3 separate regions of the Homo sapiens genome follow, and regions 2 and 3 are each linked to region 1. Evidence: fine-mapped expression QTL. A gene starts in region 1. Each other region holds a variant in brackets. All regions are shown on one strand. Distances are between the middles of the regions. Region 1 holds the start of NFKB1 (nuclear factor kappa B subunit 1). Region 2 overlaps NFKB1-AS1 (NFKB1 antisense RNA 1). Region 3 overlaps NFKB1 (nuclear factor kappa B subunit 1).

Region 1 (2,759 bases):
TCAAATGCCAGGCCCCGGAGGATCAGAATCAAGTCCTATAGCAGGTGACTATATCGTGTGTGTGTGTGTGTGTGTGTGTGTGTGTGTGTGTGCGCGCGCGCGCGCGCACGGAGGGGGGGAGGGGGGAGAGAGAGAGAGACAGAGAGCGAGCCAGGTTTCTTTTAGAAGTAGGAGAGGGATGAATAGACTCTCCTATTCAATTCTGGGGAGCTGGGGAGGGCTTTCCCAGCCAAGAGGACTGACAAGCACTTCTGCTTTCATTTCATGGAACGCCCTTAGGTGAAATCTGGTTCTGCACTGCACCAACCACCTTCCCTCTCTCCTCCGCGCCGCAGCGCACTCCAACCTTCTCACCATCCCCCAGGTGGGGCTGGGGTTGGGGATTTTAAAAGTTTGTAAGAGTTCCCCTCCGGTTCGCGTTCCCGCCCCGCGGAGGGACGTGAAGAGAAATGACCGCCGGGCGGCCGCGGCCCTTCGGCCGACTAGCCCCTGCGAGGTCCGGATGTGTCTTTCCCCGCTGTCGCTAATCCCATGTGCCTCTCAGCTACTGTCAACCTCCTCCCACGGTCTAGCCCAGCGGTTAGCGCAGGAATGAGGAAGTCCGAGTGGGGCTGGAGGGGGTGCGGAGGGCTGGGCGGCAGGACTTGGGCCACGCGTCCCCTGCCGGGCCCCCACTCGCCCGAGTTTGGCTTACCCGGGTGGCGAGTCCGCGTTCGGCCTCCTGGCGCGGGTGGGCTCTCCCTCCTAAGCGGCGCGGGCCTGCCGGCTGGAGAAGGAAGAGGCGGCGGCAGGCCGGAGCCCGGGCGGGCCCGAGTGCGGGTCGGGGCGAGCGGGAGCGCGGCGGGGCCGGGCCAGGCCAGTCAGCGCCGCGCCATGGCCGCAGCGCGGGCGGAGGGAAGCGCAGGGCGCGCGGTGGCCGGGCGGCGGCGCCGCCTTACTGGCCGGGCGGCTGCGGCCTCGGCGGCGCTGGGCTCCGGGAGCGGGGCCGGTGGCTGCGTGCAGGCCGAGGGCTGCGGCGGCTGGCGGCCCGACCGACGGGAAGGGCAGGGGAAGCTGTCAGCGCGTCGCCGGGCCGCTCCGGTGGCGAAACCTCCTCTTCCTGCCCCGGCTCGCTGGTGCACTTCTCTCTCTTTCTGTCTCGCTCACTCTCTCACTTCCTGGCTGGAAATTCCCACTGACGTCGAGAGAGCATACAGACAGACGGACACACGCGCGCACGCAGCGGGGGCGGGAGGTAGGGTCGCTGCCGGGGGTGGGGGAAGCCCGCACTTCTAGGGGCGCTGTGCGCCCCCGGCCCGGCCTTGCCGCTCGCCTCGGCTCCCGCCCCTCGGGGCCGCTTCGGGGCGCCGGGCGAGGGGCGCGCGTTAGGCGGCCTGGACGCCGCGGCCCCTGCGGGGCTCTGGCTTCCTAGCAGGGCGCTCCCGAATCCCAAGGGCTGGAGCCGGTAGGGAAGCCCCCAGGAAGCGCCTGCCGGGCCCAATCAATGGTCGGGGAACGCAGGCAGCACGGAGGCGGCGGCGGTGGCAGTGCCGCTGATAGAGTCATGCGGTCCATAGCCCCTAAGGGCAGGCCCGAGCAGCTGGAGGGTCGGCATGGATCCAAGCATGCCAGATATAAAAATAAAGCTCATCTGTATATTCCATTTAAGCGTGTCTCAGTTACATTCACATCTCTTCACAGATTAAACTACAATTTCGTTATCATAAACGACTTGTGCCCAGTAAAGTATAACCCTCTACTGGTTTTTGGTGCGGTCTTAAATCTCCTGGTTATAGAGCAGTTACTCAGAATGTTCATCTACAAGGCATTGTTAGGCCTTTATGATAATTACTGTGGATAGAATTATAGTGATGGTGGTAGCAATGGTTTTGGTTCACAGCTCATAAAATACTGATCTGGCAGAGGGGAGTTTTCTTTTTCTCTGAAGAGACCGCTACTGGCACCCACTGACAGGCCTCCCAGTGGCCACCATTCACTGGCATCTGAGCTGCTTTAGTGCTGGGCACTGTATTAGGTACAGGCTGGGGATACCTTCGGGTGGATTACCTCCCCACATAAGAAAGCTTGAGCCGAAATATATATTTTAGAGCTCATTGTTTCACTACTGGGTGGAGTGACAACTGAAAGCTTAGCTTTAAAACATCAGTAATCAGGTCCTCACCAGGCAATATTGCAGTGGCATTTAGATTGCTTATGGCATGTTCATCCTAGTCCTTTCGTGCCCACTCTCCATCCTCCTCCTCCAGTAGGTTATAAAAACCTTCTTGGTGGAGTGTTTTTCTGGAAAAAAAAAATAAACAAAAAAAACCCACACACACAAAAACCCAGCGATCCATTTGATTGCCTATGAGGTGAGTCTCCGAGGCGACCTTGGAGGCCCCAACAGTCGACCTTTAAGTGATCTCATTTAGCTCCGGGAGGCTGAGCAGCTGGAATTTAGAGGATCCATAAAGACTGAACACAATGACTTTTTAAGAAATTCTGTGAGCCGGGTGCGGTGGCTCACACCTGTAATCCCAGCACTTTGGGAGGCCAAGGCGGGTGGATCCCCTGAGGTCAGGAGTTTGAGACCAGCCTGACCAATATGGTGAAACCCCATCTCTACTAACAATACAAAAAAATTAGCCGGGCGTGGTGGCGGGCGCCTGTAATCCCAGCTACTCCAGAGGCTGAGGCAGGAGAATCGCTTGAACCCTGGAGGCAGAGGTTGCAGTGAGCCAAGATTGCGCCACTGCACTCCAGCCTGGGCGAGACAGAGC
Region 2 (2,759 bases), 21 kb after region 1:
AGATTTTCTAGTTTATTTGCATAGAAATGTTTATAGTATTCTCTGATGCTAGTTTGTATTTCTGCAGGATTGGTGTTGATATCCCTTTATCATTTTTTATTGCGTCTATTTGATTCTTCTCTCTTTTCTTCTTTATTAGTCTTGCTAGTGGTCTATCAATTTTGTAGATCTTTTCAAAAAACCAAATCCTGGATTCATTGATTTTTTGAAGGGCTTTTTGTGTCTCTATCTCCTTGAGTTCTGCTCTGATCTTAGTTATTTCTTGCCTTCTGCTAGCTTTTGAATGTGTTTGCTCTTGCTTCTCTAGTTCTTTTAATTATGATGTAAGGGTATTGGTTTTAGATCTTTCACACTTTCTCTTGTGGGCATTTAGTGCTCTATATTTCCTTCTACACACTGCTTTAAATGTGTCCCAGAGATTCTGGTACTTTGTGTCTTTGTTGTCATTGTCATTGGTTTCAAAGAACATTTTTATTTCTGCCTTCATTTCATTATTTACCCAGTAGTCATTCAGGAGCAAGTTGTTCAGCTTCCATGTAGTTGTGTGGTTTTGAGTGAGTTTCTTAATCCTGAGTTCTAATTTGATTGCACTGTGGTCTGAGAGACAGTTTGTTGTGATTTCTGTTCTTTTATATTTGCTGAGGAGTGCTTTACTTCCAATTATGTGGTCAATTTTAGAATAAGTGCGATGTGGTGCTGAGAAGTATGTATATTCTGTTGATTTGGGGTGGAGAGTTCTGCAGATGGCTATTAGGTATGCTTGGTGCAGAGCTGAGTTCAAGTGCTGGATATCCTTGTTAACCTTCTGTCTTGCTGATCTGTCTAATATTGACAGTGGGGTGTTAAAGCCTCCCATTATTATTGTGTCGGAGTCTAAATCTCTTTGTAGGTCTCTAAGGACTTGCTTTTTGAATGTGGGTGCTCCTGTATTGGGTGCATGTATATTTAGGATAGTTAGCTCTTATTGAATTGCTCCCTTTACCATTATGTAATGGCCTTCTTTGTCTCTTTTGATCTTTGTTGGTTTAAAGTCTCTTTTATCAGAGACTAGGATTGCAACCCCTGCTTTTTTTTTGCTTTCCATTTGCTTGGTAGATCTTCCTCCATCCCTTTATTTTGAGCCTATGTGTGTCTCTGCACGTGAGATGGGTTTCCTAAATACAGCACAATGATGGGTCTTGACTCTATCCAATTTGCCAGTCTGTGTCTTTTAATTGGAGAATTTAGCCCATTTACATTTAAGGTTAATATTGTTATGTGTGAATTTGATCCTGTCATTATGATGCTAGCTGGTTATTTTGCCCATTAATTGATACAGTTTCTTCCTAGCATCAGTAGTCTTTACAATTTGTCATGTTTTTGCAGTGGCTGGTACTGTTTGTTTCTTTCTATGTTTAGCGCTTCCTTCAGGAGCTCTTATAAGGCAGGCCTGGTGGTGACAAAATGTCTCAGCATTTGCTTGTCTGTAAAGCATTTTATTTCTCCTTCACTTATGAGGCTTAGTTTGGCTGGATATGAAATTCTGGGTTGAAAATTCTTTTCTTTAAGAATGTTGAATATTGGCTCCCACTCTCTTCT[C/G]GCTTGTAGGGTTTCTGCCAAGATATCTGCTGTTAGTCTGATGGGCTTCCCTTTGTAGGTAACCTGACCTTTCTCTCTGGCTGCCCTTAACATTTTTTCCTTCATTTCAACCTTAGTGAATCTTACAATTATGTGTCTTGGGGTTGCTCTTCTCGAGGAGTATCTTTGTGGTGTTCTCTGTGTTTCCTGAATTTGAATGTTGGCCTGCCTTGCTAGGTTGGGGAAGTTCTCCTGGATCATGTCCTGAAGAATGTTTTTTAACTTTGTTCCATTCTCCCCATCACTTTCAGGTACACCAATCAAATGTAGATTTGGTCTTTTCACATAGTCCCATATTTCTTGGACACTTTGTTCATTTCTTTTTACTCTTTTTTCTCTAACCTTGTCTTCTCGCTTTATTTCATTAATTTGATCTTCAGTCACTGACACCCTTTCTTCCACTTGATTGAATCAGCTATTGAAGCTTGTGCATGCCTCATGAAGTTCTTATGCCATGGGTTTTCAGCTCCATCAGGTCATTTAAGGTTTTCTCTACACTGTTTATTCTAGTTAGCCGTTCATCTAACCTTTTTTTCAAGGTTTTTAGCTTCCTTGCAATGGGTTCAAACATGCTCCTTTAGTTCGGAGAAGTTTATTATTACCAACCTTCTGAAGCCTACTTCTGTCAACTTGTCAAAGTCATTCTCAGTCCAGCTTTGTTCTGTTGCTGGCGAGGAGCTGCAATCCTTTGGAGGAGAAGAGGCGCTCTGATTTTTAGAATTTTCAGCTTTTCTGCTCTGTTTTCTCCCCATCTTTGTTGTTTTATCTACCTTTGGTCTTTGACGTTGGTGACCTACAGATGGGGTTTCGGTGTAGATGTCCTTTTTGTTGATGTTGATGCTATTCCTTTCTGTTGTTAGTTTTCCTTCTAACAGTCAGGTTGCTCAGCTGCAGGTCTGTTGGAGTTTGCTGGAGGTCCACTGCAGACCCTGTTTGCCTGGGTGTCACCAGTGGAAACTGCAGAACAGCAAATAATGCAGAACAGCAAATATTGCTGCCTGATCCTTCCTCTGGAAGCTTTGTCCCAGAGGGGCACTCCCCTACTGGGAGGTGTCTCCCAGTTAGGCTAAACGGGGGTCAAGGACCCACTTGAGGAGGCAGTCTGTTGGTTCTCAGAGCTCAAACGCCATGTTGGGAGAACC
Region 3 (2,759 bases), 27 kb before region 1:
AGATGAAGAGAGTGTCTTGAATTGTCCAGGTGGGCCTGATGAGAGGGGTTCAGGAAATCACACTGAATAGTAGGAAGTATGACAAAGGAAGCAAGAGGCTGGAGTGATGAGAGGGTGCACAGGGAAAGCAGGCAGCCACTAGAAGCTCAAAAGGCAAAGAGATGAGAGCTGCAAGAAGGAAAGCAGCCCTGCCAACACCTTGATTCTAGATTTCTGAGCTCCTGACTCAGAAGTATAAATTTGTGTTGTTTTAAGCCCCAAGTATGTGGTAATGTGTTAGGGCAGCAACAGAGTGGGCATGCAGAATATTTTGAAGAAAGTACATTTTATCTTAATAAATTACTATTCATTACTTATCAAAAAACATTGTAACCGCTGGCTCATTTAGGACTTTAAAACTGTATTTCTGAGCTTGCTATTTATTTTAGCCTAAAGAAGTTATATGTTTGAAATGTCTGTGGACAGCATGGAAACCAGCCATATTTTACTTTTTATGAGAGACTAGTAAGTGTGCTGAACTAGCTTTTCGTTTCTTTTAGTAGCCAGTATTACAGTTTGTCTCCTGCCCTTAGTAGTAAATTATTGAAAGTTCTGGGGTACTGAAGATCTTCGTATGCCTAGTTAAATTAAGAGTAAGAAAAATCTCGTTTAAATAAACAGTACTTCAGATCCATTTGAGGGATGCAAATTTTCAACTGAGGAACAAAGAATGCGCTTCACTTCAATGCTTATAAGATTAAAAGCTCACTGATGCTATTCATTGTTTGCTGAAAAGGAAATACAGGAATGAAAAACCATGTTCTGCAAAAATGGGCCTCATTTCATACAGGATTTTAACAGTCTCAGAGCAAACGTGATAACCTAGCAGGAAAACTCTTTCCTGTGGTGGCTAAATGACTGGCGAGTGGGCAAAAGGGCTCACCTTAGGAGAGAGATATACTCTTCACTTCAGACTAAGAGAGAAGTTGTGTTGTGCTGCAGCTTGCATTGTTTATTAGGTCAGGGTGGAGAGCAAATTCCAGACTCCACTAAAACACTGAGGACATGCAAACTTTAGGAAATATAAACCACCAAGCTCAAGCCAAGAAAGAAAAAAACTTCAAGACCGCTTGCCTCAAAAA[T/C]GGAAATGTCAGAATATGCCCCACCCCTGTTACTGATGATCGCAAAGATGCCCACATAAGAAAAACTTTCAAAATGAATGTTTTCAGCAGATTTTACTCTTCTGTGGCATAAAGAATCATCTCTTGTTGATAAGATTTCCTGTGTACAGACAGGAAAGGATGGTTTAAAATCAAGCAGACACAATCCTCATGCTGGTTAGTTCGCCCTTAATTGTTAGAGAAAGCACAATAAAAGCGAAAGGTAAAACAAACGGTTTTGATAATACAATTAGCCAAATGTCTTTGCTGCAATAAAAGAAAATGTTCCTAGATTTATCCTAAATCACCATTTTAAAAATAAAATTAGAAAGGAGCATCTTAATGTGAAAAGCAATGCAGTCATTCTTTCTAAATCAATCAGAATATCACCCGAAGTGATAAATGCTATATATGTCCATTTTATTTATAGAAATGATACCAGAGCCTTTAAAACATATTCCACTTCTGTTTTTATTTTTCTGGCTGATTCTTTGCACGTGTAATTTCAGAAATCCACTATTTTAAATGATTTCCACTAAAATTTAAATGTGACCAGGCTATCCTGGCACCTAGTGTTCCTTCACCTTTTCTAGTCTAGCAAACTACATCTTTCAAAACACAGCTTACGAAGACTTCCTTCGGAAAGTCCTCCGTAACTCTGCTCTTCCTCCAAGGTAGCACCTAGTGATGCTGCTTATTAACATTTCTATCCCGCTCTGCGCAGACTACTACTACAGCATATATCACCATATGAAAACAATGTCTCTGTTCTTCCTATTAAAATAGTAGGTTCCTGAAATTAGAGTGTATATATCACTTATTTTTTCCCCACTAAGCCAATGTTCTGGCACGTAGTAATACCTCAATAAATAGCTGATGAATGAACAAATCTCCATGTTTTAAATACTTCTTGGAATCATTACATAAATAATTTAATATTGCCATTATAATTGCTCCAGAGTCTGAAAATTGCTTCCAAATGATTATGTATATACATATACATATATACATATATACACACACACACACACACGAAAAAGAGAGCAAAGAGAAAAGCGAAAATGTCGGTTTTAAGAACCAATGTAGATTTGTTAGATTATTCCAACATTTCTATTTATTTTTTCCAACATTTTTCAAAATAAAATATAGGAGAAAAAGAAAAAAGGACACTGCTATCCTTTCATAACTACTAATATAATGATAGGAACAGTTTTATGCTTACAAAGCACATTCATTGAATATTTTTGACTCATCCCTGTTAGTGTGGTGCTAGCATTTCTATTTTACAAATGAGAAAAGTGAGGATTACGGGGACTAAGTGATTCTTCAAGTCTGAGGAGCTGATCTGTAGTAGTCAGTACTTATATAAAGATCTTCAAATTCTGAGTTCAAAGATCTTTTCACTACAACAATCTGTCTCCTTACTAGATGAGTTTTAAATAAAATTTTTTTTTGGTATAAATTGATGGGGTACAAGTGCAATTTTGTTACATGCATAGATTGTATAGTAGTCAAAACAGGGTTTTTAGGGTATCCAACACTCAAATAACATACATTGTACCCATTAAGTAACTTCTTATCATCCACCCCCATCCCACTGCCCTCCCATCCCTCACCTTT

What was found. PIP is the estimated chance that this variant, and not a neighbour inherited with it, causes the effect.
Region 2: its variant is fine-mapped to the expression of NFKB1 in whole blood (INTERVAL, PIP above 0.99).
Region 3: its variant is fine-mapped to the expression of NFKB1 in whole blood (INTERVAL, PIP above 0.99). The same link has a PIP of 0.9 or more in CD4 T cells.

Annotation. Positions count from the first base shown.
Region 1 is chr4:102,499,724-102,502,482 of GRCh38, reverse strand. NFKB1 (nuclear factor kappa B subunit 1) reads right to left here and starts at 1,124. Exons shown (of 24, transcript NM_003998.4): 1 at 695-1,124. It overlaps NFKB1-AS1 (NFKB1 antisense RNA 1), which reads left to right. Exons shown (of 5, transcript NR_136202.1): 1 at 1-44. RefSeq lists an enhancer at 445-494 and silencers at 605-1,174, 1,185-1,444.
Region 2 is chr4:102,478,536-102,481,294 of GRCh38, reverse strand. All of the region lies in intron 1 of NFKB1-AS1 (NFKB1 antisense RNA 1), which reads left to right. Among named protein-coding and RNA genes, the nearest start is that of NFKB1, 21 kb to the left of the region's middle. RefSeq lists an enhancer at 2,358-2,759. The variant C/G (reference allele first, on the strand shown) is at 1,579.
Region 3 is chr4:102,526,337-102,529,095 of GRCh38, reverse strand. All of the region lies in intron 2 of NFKB1 (nuclear factor kappa B subunit 1), which reads right to left. Among named protein-coding and RNA genes, the nearest start is that of NFKB1-AS1, 25 kb to the right of the region's middle. The variant T/C (reference allele first, on the strand shown) is at 1,122.